2 separate regions of the Homo sapiens genome follow, and region 2 is linked to region 1. A link means that fine-mapping ties the variant in region 1 to the expression of a gene that starts in the linked region. Tissue or cell type: whole blood. Region 1 holds a variant in brackets; the other region holds the start of a gene. All regions are shown on one strand. Distances are between the middles of the regions.

Region 1 (8,104 bases):
GTAATCCCAACACTTTGGGAGGCCAAGGCAGGCAGATCACTTGAGGCTAGGAGTTCAAGACCAGCATGGCCAACATGGTGAAACCCTGTCTCTATTAAAAATACAAAAATTAGCTGGGCATGGTGGTGCACACCTGTAATCCCAGCTACTTGGGAGGCTGAGGCAAGAGAATTGCTTGAACCTGGAAGGCAGAGGTTGCAGTGAGCCAAGATGGCGCCACTGCACTCCAGCTTGGGCCACAGAGTGAGACTCTCTCTCAAAAAAAAAAAAAAAGAAAAAGAAAAAGAAAAAAAAATCTGTTGTTTATAAGCCACTCCATTTACAGTATTTTGTTATAGAAGCCTGAACTGACTAAGGCAGTTCCACTAGACAACTCAAACCACTGCAGCTCTCCCAGATTCTGGAAAGGAAAGATATCCCACTCCACCCCCACTCAATGAAACACTTGAGACAGGAGGTGAGTTTCTGCTTCAGAAGGACATGGAGTCATGCTTTAAAAAGGACTATAGAAAAAACAAACAGGCTGGGTGCAGTGGCTCATGCCTGTAACCCTAACACTTTGGGAGGCCAAGAAAGGCCGATCACTTGAGCCCAGGAGTTTCAGACCAGCCTGGCTAATGTGCTGAAACCCCGTCTCTACTAAAAATACAAAAATTAGCCAGGCGTGGGTGTGCGTGCCTACAATCCCAGCTATTCAGGAGGCTAAGGCAGGAGAATTGCTTGAACCTAGAAGGTGGAGGTTGCAGTGAGCTGAGATTACACCACTGCACTCCAGGCTGGGCAGCAGAGCGAGACTCCATTTCAAAAAAAAGAAAAAACAAACAGATTGGGTGCAGTGCCTCATACTCTTGATCCCAGCACTTTGGGAGGCCGAGGTGGGCAGATTGCTTGTGCTCAGGAGTTTGAGATCAGCCTGGGCAACATGGCAAAAACCCATCTCTACAAAAAACACAAAAAAATTAGCCAGGTGTGGTGGTGCACACCTGTGGTCCCAGCTACTTGGGAAGCTGAAGCATGAGGCTCACTTGAGCCCAGGAGGCGGAGGTTGCAAACAACATAAGAGAAACAACATAAGAGAAACCATCAAGTGCCAGTGACTGGTTCTTGTTCATTCTCCCCTCGTTTATGGGAACTTCAGAGCCTGGAAGAGGTAGAGCACCTCTAAGGGGGACACCACACAAAGCCACCACACTAAGCCACCACTGTCATCAGAGCCACAGGGCTGGACAGTGCTGACTTTTCTCCTACTCGGAGGGGAAAGCCTATATGGACACCTGTATTCCAGGCCACCAACAAGCCCGATGGTTGTCCAAGAGCTCAGGGCCTCCTCTCTCCTGCCTTTTCTATTCTGGTTCCTCAGCCTCAGGTCTGAGCCATGGGAAACCCTCTCCAATCTGCTGCAACAGAACATCACAAACTGCTCCTGTTGTGGTCTGGGCTGCCAGTTCCCTAGCCTGCTGTTGCTACTGGAAGAAGACTATGACATCAGTAATCTCTCCCCATGCCAGTCCCTTTGTAGGTGGAAGGTGCCCATTTGAAAAGAATCACATCTAAAGCAGACAATTCAAAGCAATAGGGACAATGAAGGAAGCAAGAAGTGCCAACTGGGTGAAGCCGTGTTTCAGCCAGGCCCCATTATGCCTACACTTTTCTCAAGGCCCAGCCTCCCCACATGGCCGGTTCAGGCCCATCTGCCCAGCTCTCTTCCCCTTGCCTGCTCCTGGGCCCTGTCAAAATGCCAGCTCTTCCCTTCTCTGTCCCCTCTGCCTTCCAGGCTCCACCTGGCCCATCCCCAAGATGTCCAAACCTCCCAGCTGGAGGCTGGATTAGCAGCAGGCAGGGTAAGCCCGGCTGGGGCTAGAACAGTAGGTCTGAGCTGATGAACCTGTGTTCCAGAGCCAAGGGTAGATGGGAACACTAAGCAATTGAAATGTCACCTGCTTCCTGCTCCCCCCTCCCTACCAGGACATGATCTCCCTAAAGGCAGACTTTGGAGATGGAAGACCTGTGCTTGACTCGGATCTGTCCCTTTCTAGCAGCTAGCTTTGTACAAGTTAGACCCTCTAAGTCTCCACTTCCTCCTTTGTAAAATGAGGGCAGTAATTGGGGTAATTTGAGAAGGAATGGTAAATTGGTAGCTGAGGTACAGCTCTTAGCTTTTAGTTATCCTTCTCATGCCCTGCCCTTTCTGTCACCCTGGGCACTGGTCATGCAGGAGATGCTCTCTTGGCTGCTAGGGGGGTTGGGATGCCCCAGGAGGCAGCCCGCACCTTGCCAAGGAGCAGCCGGAGCCCTGAAACCTCCAGGAAGGGGTGGAAAAGCCTCTATCTGTGCTGTCTTTCCACAGAACCAAGGGAGAGGGTGGCCAAGAACTTAGGTGAGAAGAGGCACTGTGGGTGGCGGGGTGGGGTGGGGGCTCATTTCCATAGTTTTGTCCCAGAAGAATGTGCTGGGTATTTTTCCTGCTTTGCCCTGGCCAGGTTTGAAGGAGGAATCCCTGCTGGAGATTGATGTCACAGGCTTGCCTTCCCCTCCCCAGCTTCATCCTTGTGATTTAAAGAAATTATTTGGACATAGAAGTTAATGGAAGTAGGTTGCTAGTGTGTGGGCGAATCCATCACTGTCTCCCAGCATTCCAAGAGTGGATCTGTCTTTCAGGGTGAGATATCCTAGAGCGACTTTCCAAGGTCTGAGAAATAGAGTCTACCTTGGGAGGACAGGGCCGGGGGCATTGTGGACAGGGATTTTAGAAAGCTGGGGTGACTGCACGCTACTTCTAGGGCCTGGCTGGAGGACTTTCTTTACTTATGGGGGAAGGGAGGGAGACGGTATTGGCACGGATGGGGATGCTGCTTCTCTACCTCCGTCCCCAGCTGTCTTCTGCCCCAGGAAGTGGATAGGAAATAGACGGACACATCCCCGCAGTCCACTGCTCAGGATGAGGAGGGCTGATTTTGCAGCTGTCAGTGGCAGTGATGAAAGAGGTGGAGGTGAGGGGAGGAGGGGGTGCTGTTTGATGGAGCAGTGCTGTCGGGGGAAGAGGACTAGCTCCCCTTCCTTCCATTCCCCCATTCTCTCAGCTCAGCACTTCCTGGAGGTAGCATTCTGGGAGGGAGCTGCTTTGAAAGCACAAAGAACTAGTGCTGGAAGGCTGAGGGGTGGGGAGGTGTGAGGAGGAGAAGATAAGTATTCAGGAGGGGGCAGACTGCCCCTCAAGCCCCACACACAGCCAGGCCTTCTCCACAGCCTAAGTATGTGATGTGTGTGTGTATGTGTGTGTGTCCACGCCTACATGTAGTGCGAGCATGGACTTGCAGCTATGAAGTGTTGACAGGGAGAGTGACTAGGGACAATGCAGAAGCTGTTCTCCACCGGGCAGATGGCTCCTCTCAGGTACTTGCTCGGGTCTTCCTCTCTCCACTCCTTCAGTTCTCTCTCCACTCCTTCTCCTTGTTTTGTCTTTCTCCTCCTCAGTTTCTCAGCATCCCCTTTGCTTTCCCCCTCCCTCTCTTCTAGCTGTCATTCAGATGCAGCAAGATGGATTTAAATCAGACTGAAGATCCAATGTGGACTCTATATGGCAAATAAATAAATTAATTAATTTAAAAAAATCAGACTAACGAATAAACTGGGAAAGGGCAGCTGCAGATGGTCCAGGAGAGAGAATCCTGTAGGTTATGGAATGTTAGAACTAAACACCAGAGGAGTCTGCGGGTCTCTTCTGCACCTGTACACAGGAAGCTGGAGGTCCTTTGGGAAACATGTCTCATTGGCTCTGGGGGCAGTTGCTGGGGAGAAGCAGCATCTCCCCTCTTGTGCTTCCCATG[G/A]CTGGCTGATCCCCCGACAACACACTCATAGCCCTGAGATAATTGACTGTCTCAGCCCTTTCTTTCTTAGGCTCAGAGGAAGAGCCTGGTCTTTCTACACAGACCATGACTTTTCTCATGAAGCTGGGGACATCTGCAGGCTGGATGGCCTCCAGAGCTCTAGGCATGTGCCCAGAGGCCAGGCTGCCAGGCCCAGGTATGACAGCCTAGGCGTCCTCTCAGGTCGACTGCGCTTTAGACATTCTCCTCCTTGGTCCCTGATCCCCCTTGAGGAAGTCCAGCTCTGATTCAGGCTGTGGCAGTATCGGGGGGCAGCCTAAAGTGAGGACCCTTCTGGTAGGGCCTGCTCCTGCAGCGGCTGTCTTTGGGCATTGTGATTAGAATCTACTTTAATCATTCTTTCTCCCCGCCCCCCACACTGGTTTCAGCCAAACCAGACAGAAGGGGGCGCTCCTGAGTCATCCGAGAAGAGGATTCTGGGCTGATGCCTTAGCCCTGGCTCAGGGAACATCGGAAATTTTGTCTGTTCATCCATCAATCTGAAGGTGACTGGTGCGGTCACCTCGTTCTCTTTCTTCCTTTGCTTTCTTTCTTAAGAGATAGCGTCGGCCTTTCTTAAGAGATAGGGGGTGGTGGCTCACGCCTGTAATCTCAGCACTTTGGGAGGCCAAGGCGGGTGGATCACTGGAGGTCAGGATTTCCAGACCAGCCTGGCCAACGTGGCGAAACCCCGTCTCTACTAAAAGTACAAAATTAGCCAGGCATGATGGCAGGCACCTATAATCCCAGCTACTTGGGATGCTGAGGCTGGATAATCGCTTGAACCTGGCGGGCGGAGGGTGCAGTGAGCTGAGATCACGCCACTTCACTCCAGCCTGGGCGAAAGAGTGAAACTCCATCCCCCCACACCATAAAAAAAAAAGGGATAGTGTCTCACTATGTCATCCAAGCTTGCAGTGGCACGATTATGGCTCACTGCAGCCTCAAACTCCTGGGCTCAAGCCATCCTCTCACCTTAGCCTCCCTAATAACTAGGATTACAAATACGCACCATTACACCTGGTTAATTTTTACATTTTTATTTGTAGAGGTGGGGTCTATGTTGCTTAAGTGGTCTCGAGCTCCTGGTCTTGAGCAATCCTCCTGCCTCAGCCTCCCAAAGTGCTGGGATTACAGGCGTAAGTCACGGCACCCAGCCCCACTCACCTGCAGACTGACAGATGGACAATTTTTTTCTAGCAGGACCAGACAGAGACTTGGAGGAAACACTTTTATGACTTGTCCAGAGACTCCCTGGGCTGGAAGGAATCTGGCCTCTGCCTCTGGGAGATCAGCAAGTGGGGCAAGTCTTTGTCTGGGGCCACGGCCAAGGCTGGCTGGGTCCTAGGCTGGGGACAGTGTAACCCCTGACCATTTGCCAGCCCCCAGTAGCTCACCCTGGTCTGACTGTCTTGGCAGAGCTGAATGTCCCAATTTTCTTCAGAACTTTTTCCCAGGTTAATCTGTGTTGCTATTGCCCATGACCTGCTCACCACCTTCTTCATCATGAAAAAAAAAATGGCTTTCTCTCTTTCTCCCAGATCTCACAGTCCTCTGTGACTCTTCCTGGCCCCATCAGATGGGGATGGGCTGAGCCTAGAGTACTGAGCTGGTCGGCAGGGTGCAGCACATTCCTTACCTGGAGCTGACACTGTTAGGACTTTCTTCCCAGTTGTCTTCTTCGGGCTTCCTCCTCCCCACCCTGTCACCCCAAAGCCTCCCACACTTGGGAGTTTCTCCTTCCAGTAACAGGGCCTGCATGAGCACTGGCTTAGGGGGATGGGGTGGGGGGTACGATGCCTGTATCAGGTTACACAGCCCCAAAAGAAAAGGCTGGCTTTTTGGCTTCTAGCACCTCCAAATTCTCTCTGTCCAAAGGATGAGGAGCAGTCCTGGGTGTGGTGGCTGGTGTGGAGGATGGGACCTCTGGGCTGCCAACAAAGGCATTGCCAGCAGAGCTGAGGGCACAGGCCAAGTCTGGAGTCTGTGGACTTGTACTTGGGACATGCCCAAGTCATCCCTATGTCTACACCCTTCCATCTGACCAAGTCATCTGTTCCCCCAGAGCAAACTTGCCAACCCAAGACCACATGTGGCCCAGGACAGCTTTGAATGCAGCCCGATGCAAATTCATAAATTTTCTTAAAACATGATTTTTTTGCGATTTTTTTTTTTCTCACAGCTATCAGTGTTAGTGGGTTTTTTTGTTTTTTGGGGCGGGGTGGGGATGAAGTCTTGTTCTATTGCTCAGGCTAGAGTGCAGTGGCATGATCTTGGCTCACTGCAACCTCCCCGCCTCCCAGTTCAAGTGATCCTCGTCTCTCAACCTCCCGAGTAGCTGGGATTACAGGCTCGTGCCACCATGTCGGCTAATTTTTGTATTTTTGTAGAGACAGGGTTTCGCCATGTTGGCCAGGCTGGCCTTGAACATCTGACCTCAGGTGATCCACCTGCCTCAGCCTCCCAAAATGTTGGGATTACAGGCATGAGCCACTGCTCCTGGCCCATGTTAGTGTATTTTATGTGTGGCCCAACACAGTTCTTCTTCCAATGTAGCCCAGGGAAACCAAAAGATTAGACACCCCTGCCCTAGAGCCTGGCTCTGTAGAAACTCTCAGGACTTCAGGGGTCTACCTCATCCCACAGGGCCACAGGGTTGCCTTGGGGGTGGTGTGGGGTTGCCCTACCCTTTTAAAATGCCCTAAGGGTCCTGACAGCTACGGGTGGATACCCAGCCTCAGCTCCAGCCCAGCCCTACTGAGGCATTAACTCTGGAGCTCTCTAGGGCAGTAGGGGGTAGGGAAGAGGCCTTCTCTGATTGAAAATCTGAAGAGAAGAAAATTGCGTGGGCCTGTAGCCTTTTCTTTGCGTCTCTCAGCTCTTTCACCAAGGACGTTTTCCCTGAGGTTTCCTCTAAATTCTCCCAGCTGCAGATCACGGCACACACTGCAGACCCCTGAGACACCCACCTGTGAAACCAGTGTGGGAATGGACCAGTGAGGTGCACATCTGTGGGAAGGGCCAAGGATGAGGAAACTGTATCTGTTCAAAGCCCATCGCAAATCAGCTTCTTCATCCCTCTCAAAGGTCAAAAGCATGACAGGGCCCAGAGGAGTGTTGGTATTTTCAGAGGAGAAGGCAGTGAGGATTTGGGAGCAGTCCACCCTCCTCAGCCACATCTCAGATCTCCTTGCTGAAATAAGGCCTCAGCTGGACCAACAGAAGACAGGGAACTTAGGCACCTGGAAGAGGTGCAGACCTTATCCATCCTCCTGTGTGTCCCCCCACCCCAAGCCTGATACCAGGCCCTCTGTATAGGGGCAAAACTTTTTCCATTCTAAACGAACATTTACTCCTTTTCTCCAGGACACTGGGCATTAGCTGGACATCGGCCTGTTCAGGGGACCTCAGGCTTGAGACAGAAATGAGGAAGCACAGAGATCAAAGCCTCCTTCCCAGACAGGAGTGACTTTGAAGTTCACTGGCATTGCAATTAGGAATGACTTCCGCAGAGGGCAGGGATGGAGGAAAAAAAAAAGGAAAAAGGAATGGCTTCCCTGACTACAGCTCCAGAAACCTCGTTTTCATAGCCCCTACTACTTAGGGAACTGGGAGTTTGGGCCAGTTTGGTGGTGGCTCCCCAGTAGGTAATCTGAAGGCCTGGGGTGGGGGTAAGGAGGGGAGTATAGGGATCACTCCTATTAATTGACACTTCCCATGGCTAAGGTGCTGTTCAAGGCATTTTACGTGTTTTGTCTCATGAAATCTGCAAACTACTCATTGAATTAGGTCTAATCATGATTTCTATCTTACAGACAAGTAAACAGAGGCACACGCAATGATAATAAAAATCAGAATAGTAATAATAATGATAACATTTTAACAGCTTTTTAAAAAAATTTTTTAATTAAAAAGAGATGAGGTCTCACTATGTTGCCCAGGCTGATCTCAAACTCCAGGCCTCAAGCGATCCTCCCACCTTGGCCTCCCAATATGCTGGGATTATAGGTCTGAGCCACCATGCCCAGCCTTTAACAGCTTTTTTTTTCTTTTTTATTTAATTTATTATTATTTTTTAAATCAGGCAGGCTCCCAAGCCAGAGTAGGCTCAGAGAGACTCCCAAACCGCTTTAAAAAAAAAAAAAAATTGACACAGTGCCAGTCTTGGTGCAAGCACATGATGTATATGGTACTATTAAATCCTAAGAATTCATCATATTATCCCGATTTTCAGCTAA
Region 2 (8,089 bases), 110 kb after region 1:
GCGGTGGCTTATGCCTGTATCCCAGCACTTTGGGAGGCTGAGGCAGGCGGATCACCTGAGGTCAAGAGTTCGAGACCAGCCTGGCCAACACGGTAAAACTCCGTCTCTACTGAAAATACAAAAATTAGCCGGGCGTGGTGGTGTGCACCTGTAATCCCAGCTACTTGGTAAGCTGAGGCAGGAGAATCGTTTGAATCCAGGAGGTAGAGGTTGCAGTCTGGGTGACAAAAGTGAAACTCCGTCACACACAGACACACACACACAAAAAAAAAAAAAAAAGAAAAGAAAAAAGAAAAAACGTTTAATTGGCTCATGGTTCTGCAGGCTGTATAAGCAAGGCCTGGGCATCTGCTCTACTTTCTGGAGAGGCCTCAGGGAACTTTTACTCATGGTGGAAGGTGAAGCTGGAGCAGGCACATTACATGCTGAAAGCAGGAGCAGGAGGGGGCTGAGGTGCCACATCTTTTTGTTTTTGAGACAGGGTCTCACTCCGTTGCCCAGGCTGGAGTGTAGTGGCACAATCATGGCTCACTGCAGCCTCAATCTCCCCAGGCTCAGGTGATCTTCCCACCTGAGCCCCCCAGGTAGCTGGGACTACAGGCACACACCACCATGCCTGGCTTTTTTTTTTTTTTTGAGACAGACTTTTGCTTTTGTTGCCAAGGTTGGAGTGTAATGGCGTGATCTCGGCTCCACCTCTGCCTCCCAGGTTCAAATGATTCTCCTGCCTCAGCGTCCCGAGTAGCTGGGATTACAGGCACATGCCACCATGCCCTGCTAATTTTGTACTTTTAGTAGAGATGGGGTTTCACCATGTTGCCCCAGGCTGGTCTTGAACTCCTGACCTCAGATGATCTGCCCGCTTTGGCCTCCTGAAGTGCTGGGACTATAGGCGTGAGCCACGGTGCCCAGCCTGCTTGGCTAATTTTTTTGTATTTTTTTGTAGAGATGGGTTTTTACCATGTTGCCCAGGCTGGTCTCGAACTCCTGGGCTCAAGCTATCCGCCCACCTTGGCTTCTCAAAAGTGTTGGGATTACAGGTGTGAGCCACTGTGCCTGGCCGGTGCTACACTTTAAAACGACTACATTTCATGAGAATTCCCTTAGTACCTGGAGGACAGCACCAAGCCATGAGGGATCCTCCTCTATTACCCAAATGCCTCCCACCAGCCCCACCTCCAACACTGGGGATTACATTTCAATGTGAGATTTGGGCAGGGACAAATATCCAAAATATATGAATTATGTTCTGAGTTAGCCAGGTGAAGTAGAGGGACGCCAAAGCCACTCTAGGCAGAGGAGACTACAGGAGCAAAGACCCTGCAGCCAGAAACAGGACAGGGGTAGTTGGACAAGAATGACCTTGTCAGGGTTTGCCTTTTTCTTTTTCTTTTTGAGACAGAGTCTCACTGTGTTGCCCAGGCTGGAGTGCAGTGGTGCAGTCATGGTTCACTGCAGCCTTGAACTCCCAGGCTCAAGCGATCCTCCCACCTCAGCCTCCCAAGTAGCTGGGACTACAGGTAGGTGCCACTACACCCAGCTATGTTTTTGTATTTTTTTGTAGACAAGGGTTCTATCATTTTGCCCAGGCTGGTCTCCTGAGCTCATGTGATCCACCCATCTTGGCCTCCCAAAGTGCTGGGATTACTTGTGTGAGCCACTGTGCCCATCCTCTTTTTCTTAAAGGTTGTTCTCTCCCCACTTCATGGTCCTATTGCCCTTTGTCAGCATCTGTTAACTAGCACAGGCCCACAGTACTTTGAATTACAGTGGGCACATTCACCCACAGATGTTCACTAGGCACTCCCTAGGGGATGGGCAATGTGCTGGGTGCTGCAGGAGATACAGCTCCTGCTTTCCAGAAGTTTATATTCCCTTGGGGGAGAGGGAGATGTGAGGAGTAGAGGGTAAACACGGTAAGGGCAGGTCTCCCTAGCACCCTGCTCTCTATTCAGCACAAGGCCAGCAGTGGACATCGTCGTCTTGCATTATTCAGGTTTATAGGCCAATACTGAAATCTATCTTATTCATCATCCCGTGAGCAGGGGAAACATCATTAGGGTTTTCTATACCAGGATGATAGTGAGCATGTAGTAGTTTTTGTTTTTTTGTGTTGTTTGTTTGCTTTGTAATTTTGTTTTCTTTTGTTTTTGGAGTATTCACTATGAAGATAAGAAAGGGTAAGAATAAAATGCCCCAAATGACCAGAGGAATAGAGATAGAAGTCAGGTCCCTCAAATTTGTTGGAGGAGGGGGACAAGCTGGGAGGGGGGACGTGCTGGGGGCGGGGCGGGAACAAGCCCAAAAAGGGACAGCTGCTGCGGTGCCTCTTTTGTGTTTGTAAATGTCCTCCCCGCAAGGTGGCTCTAGCCTGTAATCCCAGCACTTTGGGAGGCTGAGGAGGATTTCTTGAGCCCATGAGTTTGAGACCAGCCTGGCAACATAGTGAGACTCTGTGTCTGTAGTTCCAGCTACTCCGGAGGCTGAGGTGGGAGGGTCGGTTGTCCAGGGATTTGAGGCTGCAGTGGGCCGTGATCGCGACACTCCACCCCAGCCTGGGCGACAGAGGGAGACCCCGTCTTAAAAAAAAAAAAAAGTCCTTGATCAAGAGGGCTTCGGGTGTTTCCATCTGTGGAGTGAGGGGACGGGTTAGGTGAATTCTAGGGGCGCTTCCACCTCACATTATGAAAGGTCCTGAGAGTCAGATTCTAGTTCCACTGTGTCCCGAAGCTGTGGGGCCTTTCCTTAGCCTCCGCTTCTCCTTCTGTAAAGCCAGGTAGTTGGCCTAGATCACTTTTCCAGAAGACTGTGACTCCGGGACACCTGTGACACTCTTGAGGGGAGCGTGCCCAGTACCCCTGGTCGCGTCTCTGGGATTCCGCCGGGGTGGGGGCCCGCGCGAGGCCGCCCCTGAGCCTCACCTGTGCGCGGAGCGGTGACTCACCTGCCCTCGCGCAGCCCTCTCCGCCCGCGGGCTGTTCCAGGAGTCACCGCTCCTCCTCCCTCTCAGGGGTCACTCCCGGCCTAAGCTCCCACTAGGGGCCGGGGAGGAAGGAATTCTGAGGTGGGCGGCGGGGAGGAAGAGGTCCCTCGGGGGTCCCGGTCCGGCGTTGCCAGACTCTCTTCGCGGTGGGGGCCTTCCCTTTCCCCAAAAGCGGAGGCCGGAACGGCCGGGAGGAGCGGGCGGGGCGGCGGCGGGAGGCGCCGGGAAGAGCGAGTCGGAGGGAGGTGCCAGGAAGGGCGGGCGGGGCCGGGACAGGGGCGGGGGCCGCGGGCGGGGGGCGGGCCGGGGGCGGGGGCGTGGGGCGGCCCATTTCCTCCTCCTAGCCGGACTGGAGGGAGACAAAGCAGCGCCCGTCTGCTTCGGGCCTCTGGAATTTAGCGCTCGCCCAGCTAGCCGCAGGTAACTTCGTACCTCCCTCCTCGCGGGCGCGGTCTCTCGGGCCAGGCCGAGAGGGTCCTTGGGCCGGGCCGTCCCAAGCTGGGCCCCGCGAGCCGCGGGCGGGCGAGCGGGCGGGGCGCGGTTTCTTTGGCGACGTCGCCGGGAATTGGGCCCCGGGCGGGCGTGGGACCCGCGTCGGGCCGGCGGTCCCTTCCCCCGCAGGGCCCGAGTATGGGGCCCGGGCGGGCACGGCCGGCGCTTCCCAGCGCTCGGGAAGTCGGGGGGCCGCCTGGGCTGGGGAGGAGAAACTATAGGCCCAGCGCCGCCGCCGCGTTTCCTCTTGGAAAAGTTTTCTCGCGGTTTCCAAACTTTGTTACCGCGGCCTCGGCGCGCGCGGCAGCCCCGCGCCGGGCCCCTCGGCCGCCTTCCTTCCCTGGGGCGGCTTGTCTGGGAGCCGCTTTCCCGGGAAGTGATTGTCGTCCGGCTCCGAGGCGTTCCTGCCCCCTCCCCCTTCCCGGCCGCTGAGACTTCCCGATGGGGCGGCGGGGACGCGGGCTCGGCGAACCGGGAGGCTGGAGCCCGGGCTTCTCCCATACAGCTTCGCCGTAGGTGGGCCACACCCGTGTGGACTTTTGGCGTGACCGTCCACTTGGACTCGGGGATTACTCAGCTTTCCTGGGTTTCTTGTCGGTTGGACGCACTTAGCTTTCAGCCCTAGTTTTCAGGAGTGGCATTAGAGAGGTTTTTTTTTTTTTTTAATTGTTGTTGACTTTTAAAGGAGCGTGTGTGTGCGTGCGAGTGTGAAGCACTTGTTGGAAAAAATGTTGCCTGAATGAATGCCTGACCTTTGCTTGGCAGCAGTGGCTTCCCAGTAATGCAGGCGGCGGTTGGCCCAGTTCCAAGGTTGACTCCCTCTTACGTCCTCTTGCATCTTGGTGACATTTTTTTGGTGCGTGTGTTTTGTACAGAATTTACAATTATTTGGAAAAGAGCGAGATATGTCAAGTCTACGACTAAATTCGGGGCATTTTATATTTATGATGAAGGAAATGCTTACATCATTGTTGGGACAGGATAGGCATTTTGTGGAGCGAATATTTGTGTTTAGTCAGCAGTGATTTTTAAATACTGGACAGGTGGGTGTTACTTTAAGGAACGGAATTTATAAATCGAATTAATTAGGATGTGTTATTTTGTTTTACAGGAAGAATGAAGAATGAGTGTAGGAGTTACCTATAGTTTCTGCCTAATTATTTACCAATCTGGACTTTTGAACAAACATTTTTTTTAAAGACGGGGTCTCCGTCGCCCGGGCTGGAGCGCAGTGACACGATCATGACTCACTGCGGCTTCTGTCTCCTGGGCTCAAGTGATCCCCCCACCTCGGCTTCCGAAGTAGTTGGGACTACAGGCACGCGCCACCACATCCGTCTAATTTTTGTATTTTTGGTAGAGATGGTGTCTCGCTGTCTTGCCCAAGCTGGTCTCGAACTCCTGGGCTCAAGTGGTCCTCCTGCCTCAGCCTCCCAAAGTGTTGTGATTACAGGCCTGAGCCAGGGTGCCTGACCCCATCTGGATATTTATTCAGCGAAAGAATAATTTTTTAATCCACCTAAGAGCTCACAGTGTAATAGGGGAGACACACACCCCAGGTGTAGTACAGAGCGGACTGCAGTAAGTGCCTTAACAGTACTAATGAAACTATTGTCTGAGTCAAATCTTACCTAATAGTAACAACAAAAGAAACTTGTAGAGGCACGGAGAGGGGGCTAATAAGTTTTACTTGGGTAAGTCCAGAAAGGCTTTCAGGAGGTGGTGGCATTTGATCTGGATGAAACATGAGTCGAGTTTTTTTTAAGTGAAGGGAGAAAGTCATGAGAAGCATAAAAGGGCATAGGAGTTTGGGGAATTGTGATATCACTCTCCTGGTTTTCTTTTCCTTTTGACTCATCTCAGTTTCTTTCTTTTCCTCGCCCTCACTCTTTCCTCTCGTACCCAGGGTTCTTTCCAAAGTATCTTTGTCCTCCACACCACTGATGTGGCATCACCTTCACTCCCATCAGTGATATCTCATTTCATATAGTGACTTAGAGATGAGAGGTACCCTCCTCCAAGATGAGAATCACTGCTCTGTGCAGTCTCTTCTGTCATCAGCCTTATGTGCTAAAAGTCCAAGCCTTTGAGTGCAGGTGTGTCTCCTGACCCACATGGTCACCTGTGCATTGGGAAGCTTTTTGGGTGTCCCAGGCTTCTCAAACTCAAGGTGTCCAAAGTGGGACTCCTGTCTCTTCTGGAGACATGAACCAGATGTGGAGATCCAGGGTAACTGCCCTGCCCGGGTTTTGGGATTTCCTTCTTTTTTTTTTTTTTTTTTTTTTTTTTTTTTTTTTTGATGGAGTCTCCCTGTGTTGCCCAGGCTGGGGTTCAGTGAGGTGATCTCAGTTCACTGCAAACTCCACCTCCTGGGGATTCAAGCGATTCTCCTGTCTCAGCCTCCGGAGTAGCTGGGATTACTAAGTGCAAGCTACCACGCCCGGCTTATTTATTTATTTATTTATTTATTTATTTTGAGATAGTCTTGCTGTGTCTCCCAGGCTGGAGTGCAGTGGCATAATTGCGGCTCACTGCAACCCGTGCCTCCTGGGTTCAAGCAACTCTCCTGCCTCAACCTCAAGGAGCTGGGATTACAGGTGTGTGCCAACATGCCTGCCTAATTTTTTTGTATTTTTGATAGAGAGGGTTTCACCATGTTGGCCAGGCTGGTCTCAAACTCCTGACCTCGTGATCCACCTCGGCCTCCCAAAGTGCTGGGATTGCAGGCTTCAGCCACCGTGCCCAGCCTGATTTTTTAATTTTTAGCAGAGATGGGGTTTCATCATATTGGTGAGTCTGGTCTTTAACTCCTGACCTCAGGTGATCCACTCGCCTCAGCCTCCTAAAGTGCTGGGATTACAGGTGTGAGCCACCGCACTTTCGGATTTCTTTGAGAACGTAACTCACTGTGGGGCATAACAGACAGCCCTGATTGTTGGGGGTAGTGTTGTGTGCTGGTGAGAATATGGAGAGAAGGAACAGGGCCCTCTGCATTTGTAGAGGTCCTGAGACAGGAAAGACTCCGTGTGTTTAGAGACTTGAGAGAAGACTTGTATAGCTTGGGTACTTTTTCAGTGGGGAGAAGACCTCACATGAGATTGCCAGAGAAGGCAGAGGCCATGTTGGGGTTTTATTCTAGAGGTGTAAGAAGCCATTGTAGGGAGTTTCATGATTTGATTTCCTTTTTAAGACTCCTGCTAGTGCTTGGAGAAGGCTTGTGTTTGTGTGCATGTGGAAGCAGAGAGTTGAGCTAGGAAGATGGTGGAGTACGAGGTGGTAGGGATGAAGGGAGCTGTATTTTGGAGAAATGAGACAGGACTTAAATATGGATTGGGGCTGGACAGGGAGGCTCATGCCTATAATCCTGTTTTTTTGGGAGGCTGAGTTGGGAGGATCACTTGAAGCTAGGAGTTCAAGACCAGCCTGAGCAACTTTATGAGACCCCGCCTCTAAAAAAAAAAAAATCAACCAGGCATGGTGACACGCTCTGTAGTCCCAGCTACTCAGGAGGCTGAGGTGGTAGGATTCATTGCTTGAGCTTGGGAGGTGGAGGTTGCAGTGAGCTCTGATCATGTCACACTGCAGCCTGGGTGACAGAGTGAGACCCTGTCTCAAACAAAAGAAAAAAAGGGAGGAAGGGAGGGAGGAAGGAAGGAGAAAGAAAGAAAACAGAATGGTGGTTGTTAGGGGCCAGGTGAAGGGGAATAGGGAGCTATTGTTATGGGTACAGAGTTCGGTTTGGGAAGATGAAAAAAGTTCTGGAAATGGATCGTGAATATATGTAATGCCGCTGAGGCATACAGTATTTAAAAACAGTTCAAGGCTGCTGTGAACTATGATCATGCCCCTGCACTCCAGCCTGGGCAACACAGTGAGACCCTGACTCAGAAAAAAAGAAAATGGACTGGATGTTGGGGGCCTAGGGTAAAGTTGCTTCCTCAGTGATTCCCTTCTACTCTCCCAACATAACCTTTCATGATGAGCTTTTAGTCATATCTTAAGACTCAGCACTTTCGTTTCTGGTAGCAAATTTTTTAGCACTGGGTGGTGCATTACATTATGCTGTACGTTATTATTGATGTACCTGTTTGCCTTTACTGCTAGGAAGGGAGCCTTGTAAGCTCCTTGAAGGCAGGAACTGAGAGTCTTAGTTCTTGTCTTGGTGCTTAGTACCTGGCATGGAGGGCAAATTAGATGCTTGTTGAGTGAAGGAGGAAAAAGTCTTTTCTGCCTGGAGTCTAGCTTGTGGATGGAATGATAACAGATGAGGCAACAGTCAGATTATGGAGGGCCTCCAATAACAAATTTGGGCAAACTGAGAACCATCTACAGCCCATTCTTCTTCCTTGCCACCCAGATCTAATCACTGATGAAATCCTCTCCATGCAGTCCTCAGCTTATGTGTAATATATTCTTTTTTTCTCCTATTTCTTTTTTTTTTGAGATGGAGTTTTGCTCTTGTTGCCCAGGCTGGAGTGCAATGGCGTGATGTCGGCTCACTGCAACCTCTGTCTCCTGGGTTCAAGTGATTCTTCTGCCTCAGCCTCCCAAGTAGCTGGGATTACAGGCATGTGCCACCACACCTGGCTAATCTGGTATTTTAATTTTATTTAT

The links. PIP is the estimated chance that this variant, and not a neighbour inherited with it, causes the effect.
Region 2: CTNNA1 starts here. The variant in region 1 is fine-mapped to the expression of CTNNA1 in whole blood (TOPMed, PIP above 0.99).

The regions. Positions count from the first base shown.
Region 1 is chr5:138,637,742-138,645,845 of GRCh38, forward strand. No RefSeq gene overlaps it. Among named protein-coding and RNA genes, the nearest start is that of HSPA9, 66 kb to the left of the region's middle. RefSeq lists enhancers at 3,507-4,060, 4,061-4,614, 4,184-4,263, 4,274-4,353. The variant G/A (reference allele first, on the strand shown) is at 3,828.
Region 2 is chr5:138,750,108-138,758,196 of GRCh38, forward strand. It overlaps CTNNA1 (catenin alpha 1), which reads left to right and starts at 3,318. Exons shown (of 18, transcript NM_001903.5): 1 at 3,318-3,403. It overlaps CTNNA1-AS1 (CTNNA1 antisense RNA 1), which reads right to left and starts at 3,817. Exons shown (of 2, transcript NR_134244.1): 1 at 3,416-3,817. RefSeq lists a silencer at 3,208-3,647 and enhancers at 3,351-3,918, 3,919-4,485.